2 linked regions of the Homo sapiens genome follow. Changing the gene in region 1 together with any one later gene gives a genetic interaction. Each region holds a gene or a part of one and is shown on either strand. Other genes may lie near its edges. The genes, in order: MAP1B and MARCHF5.

Region 1 (9,386 bases):
GATTCCCAGTGTTAACTAAAGGAAAAGTTATAATCTAACGGTAATTGAAAACATCCAACAGACACTTAATATTCTTTATATGTTTTAGTTCCTTAAAAAAAAAATGAAACAATGAAAACGTTCACAAGGCTCTAGAATTCAGTTTGCAAGACACGGATGTATGTCCTCTATGTATTAAAATAAAACCAAGAAGCAGGGTTTTGCTGAAAATGAGAACCACTAGCTAAATCCATGCTGGGGGCTAATTAGGGAGGAGAAAAAGGAGGTGCCAAAGAGTAGTAGTTGGTGGTAGCGAAAACGATTTGGAATAAAGTCCTGCATAACTAAATAAATGAAGCTAGCCTAGTCCGAGGAAACACTATTGTTCCAAACTCTGGAGGAGACATGTCCAAAGCTTTCATTATGCTTTCCGAATATAGTTGAGAAAGCAAGAGGGACCATCTCTCTTCCCTGGTTTCAAGAGGCATTTACGAAGCATCCACATTGGGACGTTCCAGGCCTGTTGATTTACTGCATTACCACCATGTCTCTACAGATTTATAGATTATTTTCTAGGCTTCCCAGAGAGCCCTCAGTAATCGGATGGCAAGAATCCAAGTCGCCAGGGTCTCCAAACCCAGAATCTCAGTTAAGGCAGGAGGGGAAATAGGAAGAAAGAGTAACAGATGCGGAACTGCCTTCCCAGCCTGCAACACACAATCATCAGAGCTGGCCCCCCTGGAGCAGCTCCATCTTGCTTCACACAACAAGGCCCAAAGGCACCAAGCAACAACAGCAGTGGCCTCTGGAGGAGGCCCAGCTGAGACCTGGCGGCTGAAGCAGCAGCTTGTCGTGCACAGGAAAACAGGACCAGCCTGCTCTGTTGCTAAGTCATCTCAGACTGTCTGAAAAGCTATGGGAGCAGGATTTTCACTTAGCGCTGGAAGGGCCTGCATCTTGAGCTGCAGCCAAGACCCCAGAACCCAGGAGAGCCATCTTCAGAGGAAAAGCAGCATCTGCTACGGTGTGTAAAGAAACGGCTCTGCTCACTCACTTGGTTGATTCTTAATGGGATCAATACAGTCATTTCGGAGTTCCATGCAAAAACCTGACCAAATTAGGGAATTAAAAAATCAGGAAGCCATGATGTCTATTGCAAAGGGAACACAAGGGGGCTTCTGGGGTTCCAGTAATGTCTGTTTCTTGATCTGGGTAACCCAGGCGTGTCCGTTTTGTGAAAATTCGTTGAGCTGCTCATCTTTGATTTGTGCCCTTTCCTCTCTATATAATACTTCAACCGAATTTTTTAAAAAATTAATGTCAAGAAGACAAATCTGAATTTTGTCACTAAGTGCTAGTAGTGTAAAAACGAGTAAAGGCAGGGAGCCCTTCTTCATAGCAGTACGTGGATGCGTCTGTTTTCTCCATAAATAGATGCAGCTTGTATAAACCCTCTGAGGAATAGGGCGCTGAAAGGATGATCAGATGAGTAACAAAGCAGGAAGATAATTACGATCCGAAGGTGATTGCTGAACCATCTCCCAGCATGGGGCGCTGCCCACAAGTGGATGGCCATACAAAGGCAAGCCCTGAAAACTGTTGTACTGAAACCTTCCTCCCATCATAGGATGTTAGCCAACCCTGCACTAACATCATGACAGGGTCAGAAAACGAGTGACGCTGCAGTACTGGTACTTCTGTCACTTATGAGTGCTGTGACCTTGAGCCGGTTCTCTTACCCTTCCTGCCTCTCTGGGCCCCCAGCTCTAAAACGGGGTTGATGATCCCTCTCCTAGCACCACCACATCGAATGGTTATGAAGATTTTGTAGATAGAAAAGCACCTCCTAATATATTCCTATTTCCCAGAAATGCTACTTACAAATAATTTTTTAAAGAAAAAAATCCAAAGTCATTGATTCCCACAATAGCCACACCCAAAGTCAGTATGTGTAAAATTTTTCCAGGAGAAAATTGTGCAAATAAACTAAATTAGAACAGATTAGACCAAAGGCCTATATAGTCTGAAAATGAAGGGTTATTGAGATGCTCAAATAAGACATTTCACTACTGAAATATCTCTTGTTCTTGAATTTTTTGGAATAAAATACTATGACTTTCTGCTCACATTTTTTTTCTTTTTTTTTTTTAAGCTAAAAGGGAAAATCAAGTGCTTTAAAGTTAAACAAAAGAACCAGGTCTGCAACTCCAGTCCCCACCCTGCAGCCTTTTGTTCTGGGGACAAGTGGCCGTTTCCAACTGCAGAGGCAGATGACAAGCATTTATTTTTTCATCTAAAACAAGGTTTTTCTTTCGTCTTTTATTGGGGAGGGGGAGTGGGGAACGAGGGCTGCGTGAACGCCCTTTGTCCGCCTCGGGCTGCCGTAGAGACCGCAGTGCGGACTGCACCACGCCCACCAACCGGTGTCTCCCGGAGAAACGCTTCAGCACCACCCCAGGAGAATAGAGCGCGGGCTGGGGCTGCGGAGGGACCCGGCGACCTCTGTCAGGAGCGAGGGGAGGGCCGGGACGCCAGGGATAAAGGGAAAGGCAGAGACCAGAGCTGCCCACCCAGGGACTCCCAGGGCAACAAAGCCAGGCAAACTGAGAGGTGGGGGCGCGCGGCCCCCGCCAGCCCGAGGCCCGGGCGGAGCGCAAGCCCAGCCAGCCGTGCCCGACGGGGGCGCCGCAGTGTGGGGGGGCAGGTGTGGCGGGCGGTCCGGAGGCACTGCGGCAGCTCGGGTGGGGCTGGGGGCGGTCTCTCTGTGCGCCCGAGGCTGTGCCCGCCGGACCCTCACGGCCCCGCCCAGGGTCCCCGGCGTACCGCTATTCGGCCTCCGCAGAGCGCGCCACTGGTGCGAGCACCGGGCGAGGAGCTGACCCTACCCGCTGACGTCTCCCTCACCGACCCCCTTCAAGCTACCACTCCCGAGGCTGGGACTTCTAAAAGCAGCAGCCCCACCCCGCAACTTGGGGTCCCATTGTCCTTTCTGAGAGCTGCAGCCAAGGCCCCAAGGGCGGTAGCGAGGCGGGCTCTGTCTGGTGGCGAAGCGCAGGCGGTTCTGCATCCCAGCATCTCCCCGGGGAGGGGGGGGCGGGGGGAGCGGGCGTGGCCCTAGGACTAGCCTAGTCATTCTGAGGAAAGAAAGGATCGGGAGGTTTGAAATCAGAAAAGGCGTTTCTCAGGGGCTGAGGTAGCCGTGGTGAGGATGAATCCCACGCGGGCCCTGGCACATGGGCTTCGGCCCCAGGTCTGCGGTGGTGGGGGTCCCAGCCTTTTCCTGAGGCCAGAAGAGGACTGAAAGGAGTGGTTGCATCAGGTCTCCCCCACCCTTCTGCCTCCTGCGGTTGCGGCTTTATTGTGGCCTCTGCTCCCCTGACACCTGCATTTCACTTAGCGGGAGAGGCGGTGGCCAACTCAGCACAGGCTGCGGACTCAGCGTGGTGACAGATCCCTCAAGGTTATTGGAGACTCTCCCTCTGGGTCTCATATCTAATAATTCGGATTATTCTTAATTAGCCCAGAAAGGGTCTGGACCAAGTATGAGAGGTGACGAGGAGAGGCATGGGTGCGGGGCGCGCGGGAGGAGCGCAGTGACCGTCGCGCCCTGGGTGGGGTCGTGTTTGCGCGTCTCCCAGCGCGCGTCTCTGGGGGCGCGGGGCCACTTACCGAGCTCGATGTTGCCGATGGCACGCCGCAGGTGCTCCTCGGTCACGATCTCGCCGACGACCACCAGCAAGTAGAACTTGCTGTCAAGGAAGCGGTGCGACAGGCTAGGCGAGGTGGACGCCGCCGGGTTGGCGATGCTGCCGGACGGCTCCGGCTCGGTGGCTTCCACCACCACGGTCGCCATCCTGCCGGCTGCTGTGCCTCGGCGAAGTGTCTCGCTCCGGCCGCTCCTCTCCACTGCGGCAGGAGAAAGGATTATCTCCGAAGGTACTGTCTCCGCTCCGCCCCCTGCGTCCCCCCTCCTCTGGCGCCGCGCGCCGCCTCCCCCTCCGCCCTCTCCCAGCGCCGCGGAGAGTGCGCGGCGGAGAGGAGCGGGGAGTGAGAGAGGGCGGGGAGGCGGCGCCGCTTTTATATGGAGACTAGGCAGGGAGCCGGGAGGAGGAGGAAGAGGAGGAGGAAAGGACCACCCGGCACATCCTCACGCGGTGGCTGCCTCCGCTCTTCCAGCCGTTGGCCCGGGGCTGATGTCATCTGCAGCAAATCATCTCGCCCGCGGCCCGGAAGCTGGAGGGACGAGGTGTGCGGACAATGGTCGGGGCAGGGCCGCGAGCCAAGGGGCTGGGGCGCCCGCTGAGCTCCTGCTGCAGCCGTGAAGGGGGAAGACGCTCTCAACCTACACCACCCACCACGTACACACCCACTGCCCACTCCTCACCCTCACCCTGTCTGTGCATGGGAATGGGATGAGTTTCCATTTTCGGAGTGGGGGTCTTTTCTCTTGTTGGAGTTGCACTAGTCAGGCCTCTGCCTTGTGTGCTGTGTATGATGTAGCCAGGTTCTCAGGAACTGGGATAGCCACAGTGGGCAGATGCGGGGCTGTGGGTACCCCGCCTAGGAAGACGGAACCTGTCTTTTCTTTGACCTTGTGGCTTTAAGAAGACGAATTTACTGATATTTACCAATATCAATATTTACCACCTTCACTTAAAGAATACATCAAAAATGCAAAACTTAAGCCTACTATTGTTCAGGCCTTGGATTCTACTCTGGCAGGGCCAAGGATGAAAAAGTACTGGCTTTGTGGTGCTCATGGGAAATGAGAGAAATGCAGATGTATTATATTAGATACCAATTTCTTTCCTTAATGTGCTGAACAGATAGTATCAGTAATAACAAAGAATAAAGAGAAGATACTGTCTCTACTCAGCAGGGTTACAGTGACTATAATGTACTTTTCAGTTCCTTGGGGAACACACAAGCAAAATTACCTCGTGACAATGATGTCTTTTAAAATACCTGTAGCATTGGGAATTTTTATTGCCTTTGTTTGTGTTTAGAAGAACTAAAAAATGTGTTTTTTGTTTTTGTTTTTTTGTTTTTTTTTTTAAGGCAGCCTATTTACAACCGTTTCTCACAAACATACTGAATATAGCTTCTGTCCCAGAAAAGGGGAGGAGGGTGAGGAAAGAGCAAAATGTGCAAACATGGTATCATAGAAGACTGGGGAATTCGAGCTTTAAGGAAGAGGAATAGATGGAAATTAGTCAACATAGCTTTAATACTAGAATGCCTGTTAGTAAAATATAGATGATAGATAGATAGATAGATAGATAGATAGATAGATAGATAGATAATCACCTAGATATTCTTAAGATTTCCAAAATAACCCAGTGTCTTAGGTGTTAGCTGCCATGACTTATTGGTCATGTACTCTTTGCTCTTATATCTTTCCTGACACCCTGGCATGGGAGACATGCTGGGCAGCCAAGGGCTGGGGGGTTCCATCCAACATGTCAATCTGATCAATGCAGAATGAAAATACCGTCTGGCCCGCAGTATTTGGGATCTGTGACAGGATCACTAGAGAGTTGCATTCACCAGTAATTAGATGAAGTGTTTCCAACTAGCTGCATTCACCAGTAACTAGATGAAGTGTTTCCAGATAATATTTTGGTTAAGATATTCAATTGCTGTTCAAGAAGTAAGGCCAGCACCAAAGCCCATAACTGGGGTGAGGGGCAGGAAATATGGTGAAGAGCACTGTTTTCTAAAGGTCATCCGTTGGATTCCAGCCTCATCTAGTTTGTGTTTGGTTTTCCTTTCTTTGAACCATTGTTACTTTTATGTATGTAATAGTTTTCTTTTATGCAGTTTATTTCTTTTACTTAAATTTATTTTTAAATGCAATTCTATGTTGCTGTATAAATGGAAACACTAATATCACTTATTAATAGAAAGTATCCCTAAAAATATACACAATGAAGATAAGATGTGATCAAATTCCTGCTACATACTGTTATGATTTGCTCAAGACTCTGAGTCCAAGGCTCTCCTTTCTTGGTTGAAAACAGAGATTGGCCAAGTGTTAGAGAGGTATTAAAGAGATACTAACACCTAACTGAGTTGTTCTCCATGTTGCAACAGAAGATTGGATGAAAATTATAACAGAGCGCTTTCTTACTGTGTGTGTCTGTGCAATTAAACACCATGACCGTGACCACCTAAGTCATCACCCACACTTTGAAAAATAGAGGCATAATGGGAGAACACAGACTAGGGATGCAGAATACTACTTTACAGCTCGGTAACTTTGGCAAGTGACTTACTCTTTTTGATCTTCCATCTCCTTATTTAATGAGAAGAAGAACATCTTTATAACTGTTAAAGTAACTGTAAGAAAGAAGGAAATGATAGAATGTGTAAGCACCTAATACAGTGGCTGGGCATAGTAAGCAATCAAGGGATGGTTGATTCATTGACCTGTTTTCTCCCAGTTACTAAGACAATGGAGCAAAAGCAGTCTTATAAAATGTGCAAGTGATACTGCTACAACACCTCTGAAACAAGAACAGAATATTACATTATTATACTTCAATACTAGAAAAGTAGCCCCTTCCCCTCTTCATCCCAAGAAAATGTATACAGTTCTAAGGAGGAAAAAGGGGGAAAACTAACATATAAGAGCACCAATATTGCCAGCTGCTCAACTGACATCACCTGGATATACCAAAGGCACCAGAATCTTGACATGCTCCAAACCCAAATCATCTTTTACCTCTAAACGGGATCCTCTCTCATTCTTGTTATTTCAATGAACCATAACACCATGTATCCCATGATGCAAACCAAAACCTCACAAATATTTTGGACTCTCCCCTGACCCTTAGCCTCGTGTGCAATCCAGCATGGAGTCTGGTCAATTTCACCTTCAGTATCTCTTCAATCCATCCACGTTTCTCCATTATCACCAACCTAGTCCAAGCTAGCATCATTGTGATAGGTACTAGTGTACCGGTTAGAAAATGGGTTCTGGAGTCAGACTGCCTGGTTTTGAATCCTAATACCATAATTTATTAGCTGTGTGGCCTTAAGCAAGGTGCTTAACCACTCTATACCTTGGTTTTCTCATTTGTATAGTAGAGATGAGTACCGACCTCATGGACAGGAGGACAGTTTAAATATGCAAATTACTTAAAACAGTGCCTTGCATATAATGAGCACTTAATAGGGATTAGTTGTTTTTGGTATGGGGTTAGTTGTTTTTGGCTGTTATTGTTTAACATTTTACTATGGAAAATTTCAAACAGAGAGAGTATAATGTAAGTAACACCCACATACCCATTATCCCCAATCCATAGATTTTTATAGTTTGCTTCTTTAAATCAAGATTGAAATAATGTCTATATATTTCAACTGATTCATCAGTCTTAAACTCCTTTGATCTATGTAATCCTGCTATTTTTTTCCTTGTAATTTTCTGTTGAATAGTGGCAACATTGTTCAGCAGAGTTTCACAAAGCATAAATTTTGCCGATTGCATCACCTGTTGTGTTATTTAACATGTTCTTCTATCTTCTGAATTTTCTGAGAGAACTAAAGTCTTGATCAGATGCAGATTTGATATTTTTTACATGTATACTTCATAGGTAATATTGTGATCTTCCATCAGAAGGCACCTAAAGACTAGTTAACCCTCATTCTGTGATTTTAGCAGCTATTGATGATCATTACCTAGATCCATTATTTCACTATGGATTGAAAAAATGATAATATTCTAATTTTGTTATTATTTATTTGACAGCTAGAAGACTTCTGTTAGGAGAAGCGTTATCCTGTCAGTTGATTACCCTGAGGTACGGTATGTACAGGAAAAGAAGGATAAACAAATGATTTTTTCTCTTTATTTACTGATTTTCAAAATAATTAATTTATTCCAAATCATTCTCTAAAGGTGACTAATTTTTTGTATCATTACAAATATAACTTACATTATTCATATTGATGCTTTCATTTTTTCATCTTTGGCCAGTAGTATGGTAAGGTATCCCTAGCTTACCTTGCACATATCTGGCCTCAGAACCTGGAATGAGCCGTTTCTCTATGGAATCCAAGTTCCTTACGTGGGTAATGGTATTTGGAGACCCCTGTATACCAGGTGCTACTACTATTTTGATCATTGTTTCTAGATATTTTCAGTGGACAGAAATATGAAATAAATTGTTTTTCAAGTATGAGTTCATACTTATACCTCTAACTCAGAATCGGGACTACAGGGATTTTGCCTAACGTTTTATCTTGCATCTGTATTTCCTTTGTCCTATGCCTAGAATTCCAGTTTTCAAAGACTCCAAGGTGACAGAATTAGAACAGCAGATAGTTTCTCATTTTTCTTGTTCCACAATATATACAAATTACCCTCATGGTAGTTTTAGATACGAATGCAACACTTTTGCCAACAATGTGATTACTAAAAACATTTTAAGGTATATAGTTTTTTTGTTTGTTTGTTTGTTTGGTTGGTTGGTTGTTTTTTTTGTTTTTGTTTTTTTTTTTTTTTTTTTTTTGAGACCGATTCTCACTCTTGTTGCCCAGGCTGGAGTGCAGTGGCGCCATCTCGGCTCACTGCAACCTCTGCCTCCCAGGTTCAAGCGATTCTCCTGCCTCAGCCTTCTCAGTAGCTGGGATTACAGGCACCCACCACCATGCCTGGCTAATTTTTGTACCTTTAGTAGAGATGGGGTTTCGCCATGTTGGCCAGGCTGGTCTCAAACTCCTGACCTCAGATGATCTGCCCGCCTCAGCCTACCAAAGTGCTGGGATTATAGGTGTGAGCCACCGTGCCCAGCCTAAGCTATATAGTTTTAAAGTGTAATTAATTCTGTTATATATGATCGTGCCACTAACTCAGTGCATAGTTATGTTCATTTGTTTCATTTTGTTTTCAGTTTTTATGAATTGATTTTTACAATTTAATTTTGCTTTATAGTAATGTAAAATATTTACATGGTTCCAAGGTGAAATCTACAAAACAATTTGTATTTGGAGAACTTTAGCCTCTATCCCTGTCCCCTCCAGCTTTCTCCCTGTCTCTTCCTGTGAGTAACAATTTTTTACCTTGATTTAGCCTTTCACTTTAAAAATGCAAGTAGCAGCATATACATACAATTTTCTCCACTTTGCTTATTTCATCAAACACTATATCCCGGCTATAACGCTACAATAATATATGTTAATATTCCTCATTTTTATTTATAGCTGCATAGTAACCCATTATGTTTATTTACTATAATTTACTCAACCAGTCCATTGTTGGTGAACATTTGAGCTATTTCCAGTTTAATTTATATTGTAAACAGTAGGTCTAGCTATTTTTTTTTCCCATGCAACCTCAATAGTCACCTTACTGGCATCTGTATATCCACAATGACTCACCCAATCCATGCTTCACACAATATGGA
Region 2 (9,140 bases), on another chromosome or scaffold:
ATGAAAAGAATTCTGGGTCCTAATAGGCTGACATATTTTAGTCTCTTGGCCCTGTTGGTATTCCTCAAGTGAACCATGTTGAGTATCTTTGTGTTCAACTTGCAGTAGGGCCAGCCCAGGTGAAGAAAGCTGTAAACATAAAGTAGATGGGGGAAAAATGGCCAAACTGGTTTACATTAGTCTTAAGTGCCTTCTATTTGGCTAACATAGAGTGTTTTGCTGTTTTATAGAGATGTATGTTTCATTTGCTGTAGCCCTGTGAAGTAGGGTTCTCATTTTATAAATGATAATATACATAGTGTCAGAATCTAAGTTCAAAGTCACATAGCTAGTAAGTGGCAAAATTCGAATTTCATACTTTCTATCTCTGAGCCCAAGCTTTACTCACTATACCCTACTATCTCTTATCATGAAAGATATCACTGACTTAGGACTTAGGGCAGTAGGTTTCTGCCATATCTAAAACATTTAAAAAGCTTTAAAATATAGATGCCCAGGCTCTACCCTACAGAAATTTTTGATCTTATTGGTCTTACAGTCCAGCATCCATGCATATTCTGAAATGCTCCCCAGGTAATTCTAACATGGAAGTAGGTTGCCAACTACTAATCTAGACAATAACGGTCTTTGAAAGTCATGTTAAAAATCTACCTTAAGGTATGTCAAAAGAGTACAAAGATGAGAGTAGTACAAAGATGAGAGTAAGCCAGTGTCATAGTCACCTACTTCAGTAAATGGCAGCCAGAATCTTCGCATTTCTGTTAATAAGTTTTAAATGCCTCACTAGCTTTTTTTTTTGAGATGGAGTTCCACTCTGTCACTCAGGCTGGAGTACAATGGTGCGATCTCAGCTCACTGCAACCTCCGTCTCCCAGGTTCAAGCAATTCTCATGCCTCAGCCTCCCGAGAGTTGGAACTACAGGCCCACGCCACTACGCCTGCCTAATTTTTGTATTTTTTTTTTTTTTTTTAGTAGAGACAGGGTTTCACCATGTTGGCTAGGCTGGTCTCAAAGGCCTGAGCTCTAGTGATCTGCCTGCCTTGGCCTCCCAAAGTGCTGGGATTACAAGGGTGAGCCACCGTGCCCAGGCTCACTCTTTGGCTTCTTACTTTTATGGAAATATCCAAAGAGCATATGAAAAGTTAGGTCAGCTTTTGGACATAAGAACTTTTCTAGGCTGGGCACGATGGCTCATGCCTGACAATCCAGCACTTTGGGAGGCTAGGCGGGAGGATCACTTGAGCCCAGGAGTTTGAGACCAGCACAGGCAACATGGCAAAACTCTGGCTCTATAAAAATACAAAAAATTAGCTGGGCATGGTGGTATGTGTTGTGGTCCCAGCTACTAGGGAGGCTGAGGTAGGAGGATCACCTGAGCCTGGGAGGCGGGGGTTGCAGTGAGTTGAGATCATGCCAATGCCACTGCCACTGCCACTGCATTCCAGTCTGGGCAACAGAGACCCTGTCTCAAAAAAAGAAGAAAAAAAGTCACTATGTAAAAATGAAAAGCAGGAGGCCCTCAAAGGAAAAAAATTAACTACAAAATACCCCACATCAGAACAGGGTCTCAACAGAATAGAACTGGCAGTGGCAGGTGGTTTCCTCTGGGCATATTTTAATTTGCCACAATTTGCCAATTTACAATGAAAGGAAAACCTGGTAAATTATCAGACCCCCTAGACAACTGGGGAAACTGACAAATAAGTTTGTGCATTAGTTCATACAACAAATACTTACTGATTACCTACTGAGTACCAGGCTCTGTTCTGGGATTCAAGATAAACAATAGTAAGTTTCTGCTTCCAAGAGCTTATAAACCACACACATATCACACACATATATATATAAAGCAGTCAATACAATTGTCAGGATGTTGACCTGAAACAAGGGCTGGATGAATCACCAGTTATCTCAACTGAAAAAAATCAGTGACATAATTCCTATTAACTGAGATGGCTCAAAATTCTAAGCTCCAAAAAAATGTCTGTCACTCTGGAAGGATGTGTACCCTTGGGTCATTTGTGTTCTGGGTGTGGCAGGCCCAAAAGCATTTAACTGGGTATAAACTCAATTAAGGGAGGGCCTTCATTTAACACCTTACAGTTGGAATTTTACTGAGTACAAAGAGTTGGTACCACCTGCTGAAATGGGTGGCAAGTGGTGTCTATTGAGAATTGTAAGCAACCACAAACATCATGAATTAGCTTGTACAACTTGCTATGCCAGGAAGTAAGACTTGGCTCGGGGGAAATGTGGATCTAGAGTCTCCAAAAACTCATGGTAGGACCCACGGACCAGAATTTCAACAGCAGAGGGCGGTGCACCCGACTTCACAAAGAGTTTTACCGACTGGGGCCCCCCAAGAATGGGCAACTGGACTCCTGTACGAGCTGAAACGTCTTCAATGAACTCAACGATCGTCAAGTACACTAAATGTTCAGCGTTGGACTCATTTGGCTGTTTTCCATAACCTCTACTCTGGTCTGACCGTTAAATCTCCCTTGCGGATACTCTGACCTTACAGTTCGGAGGTGGGGACGGGATGGGGCGGGGGGGACGGGGGGTGCGGGTTCAGGGAAAGTGGGAGAATGAAATCAGCCTATCAGGCTTTCCAAAAGAATGCTTATCATTGGTTCTCAGACAGAGACTTAAAATTATAAGGGGGTCATTCCCCTGAAAGATAACCCGGTTCTTGCCAGTGACATCGCTGACAAACACTTCACAAGTTGGGGAGGGGGAAGGGGGAGGGGAAGAGGGTAAGGAAAACTAATTTTGTGGATTAACAGGAGTCCCTCTCAGGTCAAAACGGGGTTCCAAGGAAACCAGACGCCACTCCTTAGCTAAGTTTCACCCAAAGTCTACGACCCAGGCCGCTCGCTCTGTCCTCCCCCAGGTCTAGACTCCAAACTTTTTGCCCCTCTCACGGCCCCCTGGCCGTGGAACTCCTCCCGGCACGCCGGGTTCTGCTCACCAAGAGCCTCGAGGGCGGGCGCGGGCAGGGCCAGAGCGAGGGTCGGCGGCTCCCGGTCCCCCCCACAGCTGCCCGTACCTGTCCAGCATCTGCTGTAGGGCTTGGTCCGGCATCTTCCGCGGAGCCGGCGCACACGGCCTTCCCCAGTGGACCCGCTCAAGGCCAGGCCCAGGGACAATAGCACTGAGAGGCGGCGGAGTAGGCCGCAGTCCGGCGGCAGCCGCGAACCCGTCACCCAGCTTCCCGGGGCAGCTCCGCTAGCCTGGCGGCGGCGGTGCAGGGCCTGCGGGAGTCCGGCGGAGGCGGCGGAGAGCGAGGAGGAGGAGCCTGAGGCGGGGAGGCGGCGATCGCGGCCCGGGTTCCCGTCCGTCGGCCCGAGGTTCCGGTCCATGGACCGCGGGCGCCGAGTTGCTGCCGGCGGAGGAGCTACCTTTGTGAGGTAAGAGTCGCCGCCTCCGTGCGCGCCAGGGTTACGACGCAGGGCGGCCCAGAGCAGCCTGGGAGATGTAGTCTTCGGACCGTCTCCACTAGAGGCTGCACAGCCCGCCCGGACCAACGCCTCCGCGCCTGCCGCCGTCTGGCCGGCGCCCTCCCGTTTCCTTCCTCCAGGGGGAAAAAATGTCTTTCGGGCCGCTTTCCAGGAAGCAGCAGGATGCGCCGCTCCACTGTCGGTAGCAACAAGGTCAGCCCTCCCTGCCTGTTTGTTTTTGCCTCCGCTCTTGCCCTCAGGTGGGACCGAGCCAGGTGAGGGGAGGGGGCTGAAGGGCCATTTCTTATCAGGGTCCCCGGCCCCGGCCGTGGCGTCGGGGCGGTCAGTGGCGGCAGTGGGGGTGGCAGAAACTCCTTCCGAAGCCCCCGGCGCTGGAGCCAGCCTCTCCTGCGGCAGAGCCCATTTTGGGGGAATTACACCACCTCCGCGAGGGGTCGGTTGGTTTGGTGCGTGAGGTTCTTCTTGAGGGGGCGGGCAAATAGGGACTGCCTGGACCAGACAGCTTCCACCCGAGTCTCTCTGTGTGTTTGGGGCTGGGGAGTTGGGGGAAGGAAAGATGATTCTCTCCCTCTCCAGGAACCTTCTCAAATGTGCCTGGGCTTTCCAGGGCTCGCCGACAGTCTCCAAATGGAACACGTTGGTGAATAAACAGCTCTTGCTTACTCAGCTGTGGGTTGTCAGGGATGTTTGTTTCTCTCTCTGCTGCTGGTCACTGTTAACCGTTTCTAGTCGCGTTGACACCTTCAAGCAGGTGGATTGGGAGTGGCGGGGGTGGGGAATCAAAAAGGAGAAATCATCAGTCACTCCTTGGGTCAGCTTCTGACGTTCGAGGGATAGCTTTGGCGGGAGGAAAGAGCTGTCGGCTCAAACGAATGCGTTTTTTGGACGACCTGTGGCGTTTTCTCTAGGGCTGTGATTGGTAGGACGCTGGTAGTTTTCCCTTGATTATGTCTAATATCTGCTACAAGGTGTTTGATTTTTTAAAAAATGAAAATGTGTTTTTAAAGCTCTTTTTATATGTAGAATTTTACAATCAACTTTTCATTATCTGTTCAAAATTTGCGAAGTATATTTGAACTAGAGTGTTCATTGCTGGGAAAAAACAACAAACCCAAAAAATGTGACCAGAAGCTTACTTGGCCTCCAATTTTTGAAATATGTTTTTGAGAAACAGCACCCACCCCCCCCCACCACACACATACACACACACTCCTCCTAGGGAAAGAAAATGAGTATTTAGTTTAATCGGGGTGTCTAATATTTTATATATATTTGTATTATATATAATATATATGTATTATATAATATATAATACATTTATAATATATAATACATATATACATTTATAATATATAATACATATATATATATATATATATATATATTTTTTTTTTTTTTTGGTAGAGACGCGGTCTCGCCATGTTGCCCAGGCTGGTCTTGCAACTCCTGGGCTCAAGCGAGCCACCCGCATTGGTCTCCCAAAGTGTTGGGATTACAGATGTGAGTCACCGCATGTGACCAGTGTCTAATATTTTATTTAATTAATTCATTTATTTAATTAATTCATTGATTTTGAGAGATGGAGTCTTGCTCTGTTGCCCAGGCTGGAGTGCAGTGGCGCTGTCTTGACTCACTGCAAGCTCCACTTCCTGACTTCAAGTGATCCTTCTAGCCTCAGCTTCCCAAGTAGCTGGGACTACAGGTGTGTGCCACCACACCCAGCTAATTTTTGTGTTTTTTAGTAGAGATGGGGTTTCACTATATGTTGACCAGGCTGGTCTCGAACTTCTGACCTCAGGCGATCAGCCCGTCTCGGCCTCCCAAAGTGCTGGGATTACAGGGGCGAGCCACCGCGCCTGGTCTATTTTATTTTTTTGAGACGGAGTCTCGCTGTGTTGCTCAGGATGGAGTGCAGTGGCACTATCTTGGCTCACTGCAGTCTCCTCCTCCGGGTTCAGGTGATTATCGTGCCTCAGCCTCCGGAGTAGCTGGGATTACAGGCTCGCACCACCATGCCTGGCTAACTTTTGTATTTTTGGCAGAGGCAGGGTCTCACCATGTTGACCAGGCTGATCTTGAACTGATCTCAGGTGATCTGCCTGCCTCGGCCTCCCATAGGGCTGGGATCATAGATGTGAGCCACCGTGCACAGCCCGGTGTCTTAACATTTTAAATTATTATTTTTTGCTCCTTGTGCTGTGTCAGTCTAACCTTATTGTGTACTTATTTCTTAAGCAGTTGTCAGCCATGGGAGTTGGATATATACTTCCTGCTTAAAAACAGAATTTTATCCCAGCATATGGATTAAGTACACTAGTACAAACTCCAAGATTCTAAGATCTTAACCAATGTTAGAATGTCTGTTTCAACTGAAATTGGAAAATATGATACCTTTTGTTGATAGCAAAGACTTGTGCACCTTGACCTTATTATACCAACAAATGGATTTTATGTTTGCATTTTTATGAAAAATCAGCTTTCTGGCTGTGTCAAAAACCTTTTAAAGTAGAAAAAAATCCTGTTACTGGTCTAAAGAGTGATTAGCATGTGACCCAGTAATTCCACTTCTAGGTATTTTCAAGAGAAATGAAAACATGTCTACACAAAATCTTGTTTGTGAATGTTCATAGCAGCATTATTCTGGGTTTTTTTTTTTTTTTTTTGAGACAGAGTCTCGCTTTGTCATCCAGGCTGGAGTGCAGTGGCGCCAGCTCACTGCATCCTCAGCCTCAGGGGCTCAAGCACTCCCCCTGCCTCAGCCCCCCAAGTAGCTAGGACTACAGGGGCGCACCACCATGTCTGGCTTAAAAAAATTTTTTTTGTAGAGATGGTGTTTTGCCATGTTGCCCAGGCTGGTTTCGAACTCATGAGCACAAATGATCCTCCCACCTCGGCCTCCCAAAATGCTAGGATTACAGGCATGAGCCACAGCACCTGGCCTACAGCATTATTCTTGATAGCCAAAAAGTGGAAACCCAAATATCCACCAGTTGATGAATGGATAAACCACATGTGGTGTATCATACAATAGAATATTATTAGGAGAAAACAAGGAATAAAGTTATGATACATGCTATAACATGAAAGAACCTTGAAAACATTATACCAAGTGAGAGGAGCCAGTCACAAAGACCACATATTGTATGATTCTGTTTGCATGAAAAGTCAAGAATAGGCAACTCCATAGAGACGGAAAGTAGACTAGTGATTGCATAGGGCTGAAGGAGTTGGGGAGAAATGGGGAGTGACTGCTAATGAGTATGAGGTTCCTTATTAGAGGGATGAAAGTATTCTAGAATTAGATAATGGTTCTGGTTATATAATTTTGTGAATTATATCACAAATAAGATAAAATTAGATTATGGTAATAGTGGCAAAACTGTAAATATACTCAAAAACCCATTGTACACTTAAAAGGGGTGAATTTTAATGTTACATAAATTACATCTCAATAAAGCTTTTAAAAGAGTAATTAGCTCCACAGAAAATGTTCATAAGGGTATCTGAAAAGAAGCATATAAACAGATAACTGATAATTCTTTATTATCAACTTTGTTTCTTATTAGTATGGGCAAAAATAGTGATTGATAAAACTCAGAAAATAAATTAATCCTAACATTTGAAATGGGTGACACATATTGTGTGAATTTCAATATTGTTTGTCAGCTTTGTTTTTTGTGGTCTTACATTTTCCAATAAGACTCAGAATAATTGGAATTACAATATATTCTCTGATTTTGAAGGAAAAAAGTCTAGATTATTAAGACCTTAATCTGACCAAAACCACATTGAAATGCACTCCTGCATTTATATGTAGGGTTGAAAATCTATGATAGTGGCGCATACCTGTAGTCCCAGCTACTCAGGAGGCTGAGATAGGAGAATCGCTTGAACCTGGGAGGCGGAGGTTGCAATGAGCTGAGATCGCACCACTGCACTCCAGCCTGGCAACAGAGTGAGACTCCGTCTCAAAAAAAAAAAAAAGTCTATGATAAATGATATTCAGCCAAGAGAGTAACCAGCATGACTATAGACAAAAACAACTTTTTCCTCAGAGATATATTTTGAAATAGAAATTAACCTACAGAAAATATTTAAAGATTCTCCCAAGTTCAGAGGACAAGAACAAAGCTTGATGATGTAGAGTTCTAAAGAGTTGGGATTATAGGCGCACACCACTATTTTAATAATTCTGTAATGGATTTAGAGATAACTGAGTATGAGCTGCTCTAAATATGTCAGAAAATTTAAAATAATATACCACTCTAATGTTCTTCCATCATACTTGTTTTGAACTGTCTACCATAAAGGGGCCTGGAGTATTCGTTACAGAAATGGTATAATATTTTTAGGTGCCTTCTAAGGAGAACTGTCAATTGCCAAATTTGGTGATAAACTGCAGGCTGAGTCCTCATTCCAAGCTACAGAAAGTTTTTTTTTCATTAATTCCTTCAGCAGGTGTTTCCAGAAAATATATGCATAGGTATGCTAGTAGCAAATTATAACTATACCTATGTTTTTTTTTTTTTTTTTTAGATAGAGTCTTGCTCTGCTGCCCAGGCTGGAGTGCAGTGGTGCCATCTCAGCTCACTGCAACCTCCCACTCCCAGGTTCAAGAGATTCTCATGCCTCAGCCACCTGAGTAGGTGGGATCACAGGCATGCATCACCACGCCCAGCTAATTTTTGTATTTTTAGTAGAGATGAGGTTTCTCCATGTTGCCCAGGCTGGTCTTGAACTCCTGACCTCAAGTGATCCACTTGCCTTGGCCTCCCAAAGTGCTGAGATTGCAGGCATGAGCCACTGTGCCTGGCCTATAGCTACCCTTCAGAGGCATACAATCTACATACCTAAATATGTTTATATTTAGAAAAATAAAAGCAGGCTGGGTGTGGTAGCTCACGCCTGTAATCCCAGCACTTTGGGAGGCCGAGGTGGGCAGATCACAAGGTCAGGAGATCGAAACCATCCTGGCTAACACAGTGAAACCCTGTCTCTACTAAAAATACAAAAAATTAGCCGGGCATGGTGGCGGGCGCCTGTAGTCCCAGCTACTCGGGAGGCCAAGGCTGGAGAATGGCGTGAATCCATGAGGCGGAGCTTGCAGTGAGCCGAGATTGTACCACTGCACTCCAGCCTGGGGACAGACTCCCTCTCAAAAAAAAAAAAAGAAAAAAGCAAATAAAACAGAGTATAATAATGAAATATTGTATAATGATAACATGATAGCATTTGAGGAAGTGTCAAATAAACAGCATAGAAATTTAGAGTGATGTAGAAGTTCCACTGGAAACTGTTGTGGACTGGTGTGTTAAAGAGAGCTTTGTAAAACCAATTTAGGCTCTACTTTGTAGCAAGAGGAGTAATTAATGTAGGTGAAGAGGTAAAGAAGGATCTTGGGTCTGGGTAAGAATGAAAGGATGTAAAGAAAGAAGTTATCCTTTATAACTTGAACTATAGATCTGTTATGTAAGCGGAAAATATGAAGGGCTGGTGCTGTGGTTTGAATGTGTCCCCCAATGTTCATATGTTAGAAACTTAAATTCTGGCTGAGCACGGTGGCTCATGCCTGTAATCCCAGCACTTTGGGATGCCGAGGCGGGCAAATCACTTGAGGTCAGGAGTTCGAGACCAGCCTGGCCAACATGGTGAAACTCCATCTCTACTAAAAATACAAA

Evidence for each region.
Region 2: of MAP1B (region 1) and MARCHF5, a change in one rescues a mutant of the other (synthetic rescue), as found in Homo sapiens cells (one study listed by BioGRID).

Annotation. Positions count from the first base shown.
Region 1 is NC_000005.10:72,101,978-72,111,363, reverse strand, and holds the start of MAP1B (microtubule-associated protein 1B), read right to left. Parts: upstream 3,890-9,386; 5' UTR 3,833-3,889; coding exon 3,649-3,832; intron 3,440-3,648; exon of another isoform or gene 2,770-3,439; intron 2,590-2,769; exon of another isoform or gene 1-2,589. UniProt on the Homo sapiens protein: Facilitates tyrosination of alpha-tubulin in neuronal microtubules. Phosphorylated MAP1B is required for proper microtubule dynamics and plays a role in the cytoskeletal changes that accompany neuronal differentiation and neurite extension.
Region 2 is NC_000010.11:92,285,440-92,294,579, reverse strand, and holds the start of MARCHF5 (E3 ubiquitin-protein ligase MARCHF5), read right to left. Parts: upstream 3,414-9,140; 5' UTR 3,086-3,413; coding exon 3,051-3,085; intron 1-3,050. UniProt on the Homo sapiens protein: Mitochondrial E3 ubiquitin-protein ligase that plays a crucial role in the control of mitochondrial morphology by acting as a positive regulator of mitochondrial fission and as an important regulator of immune response.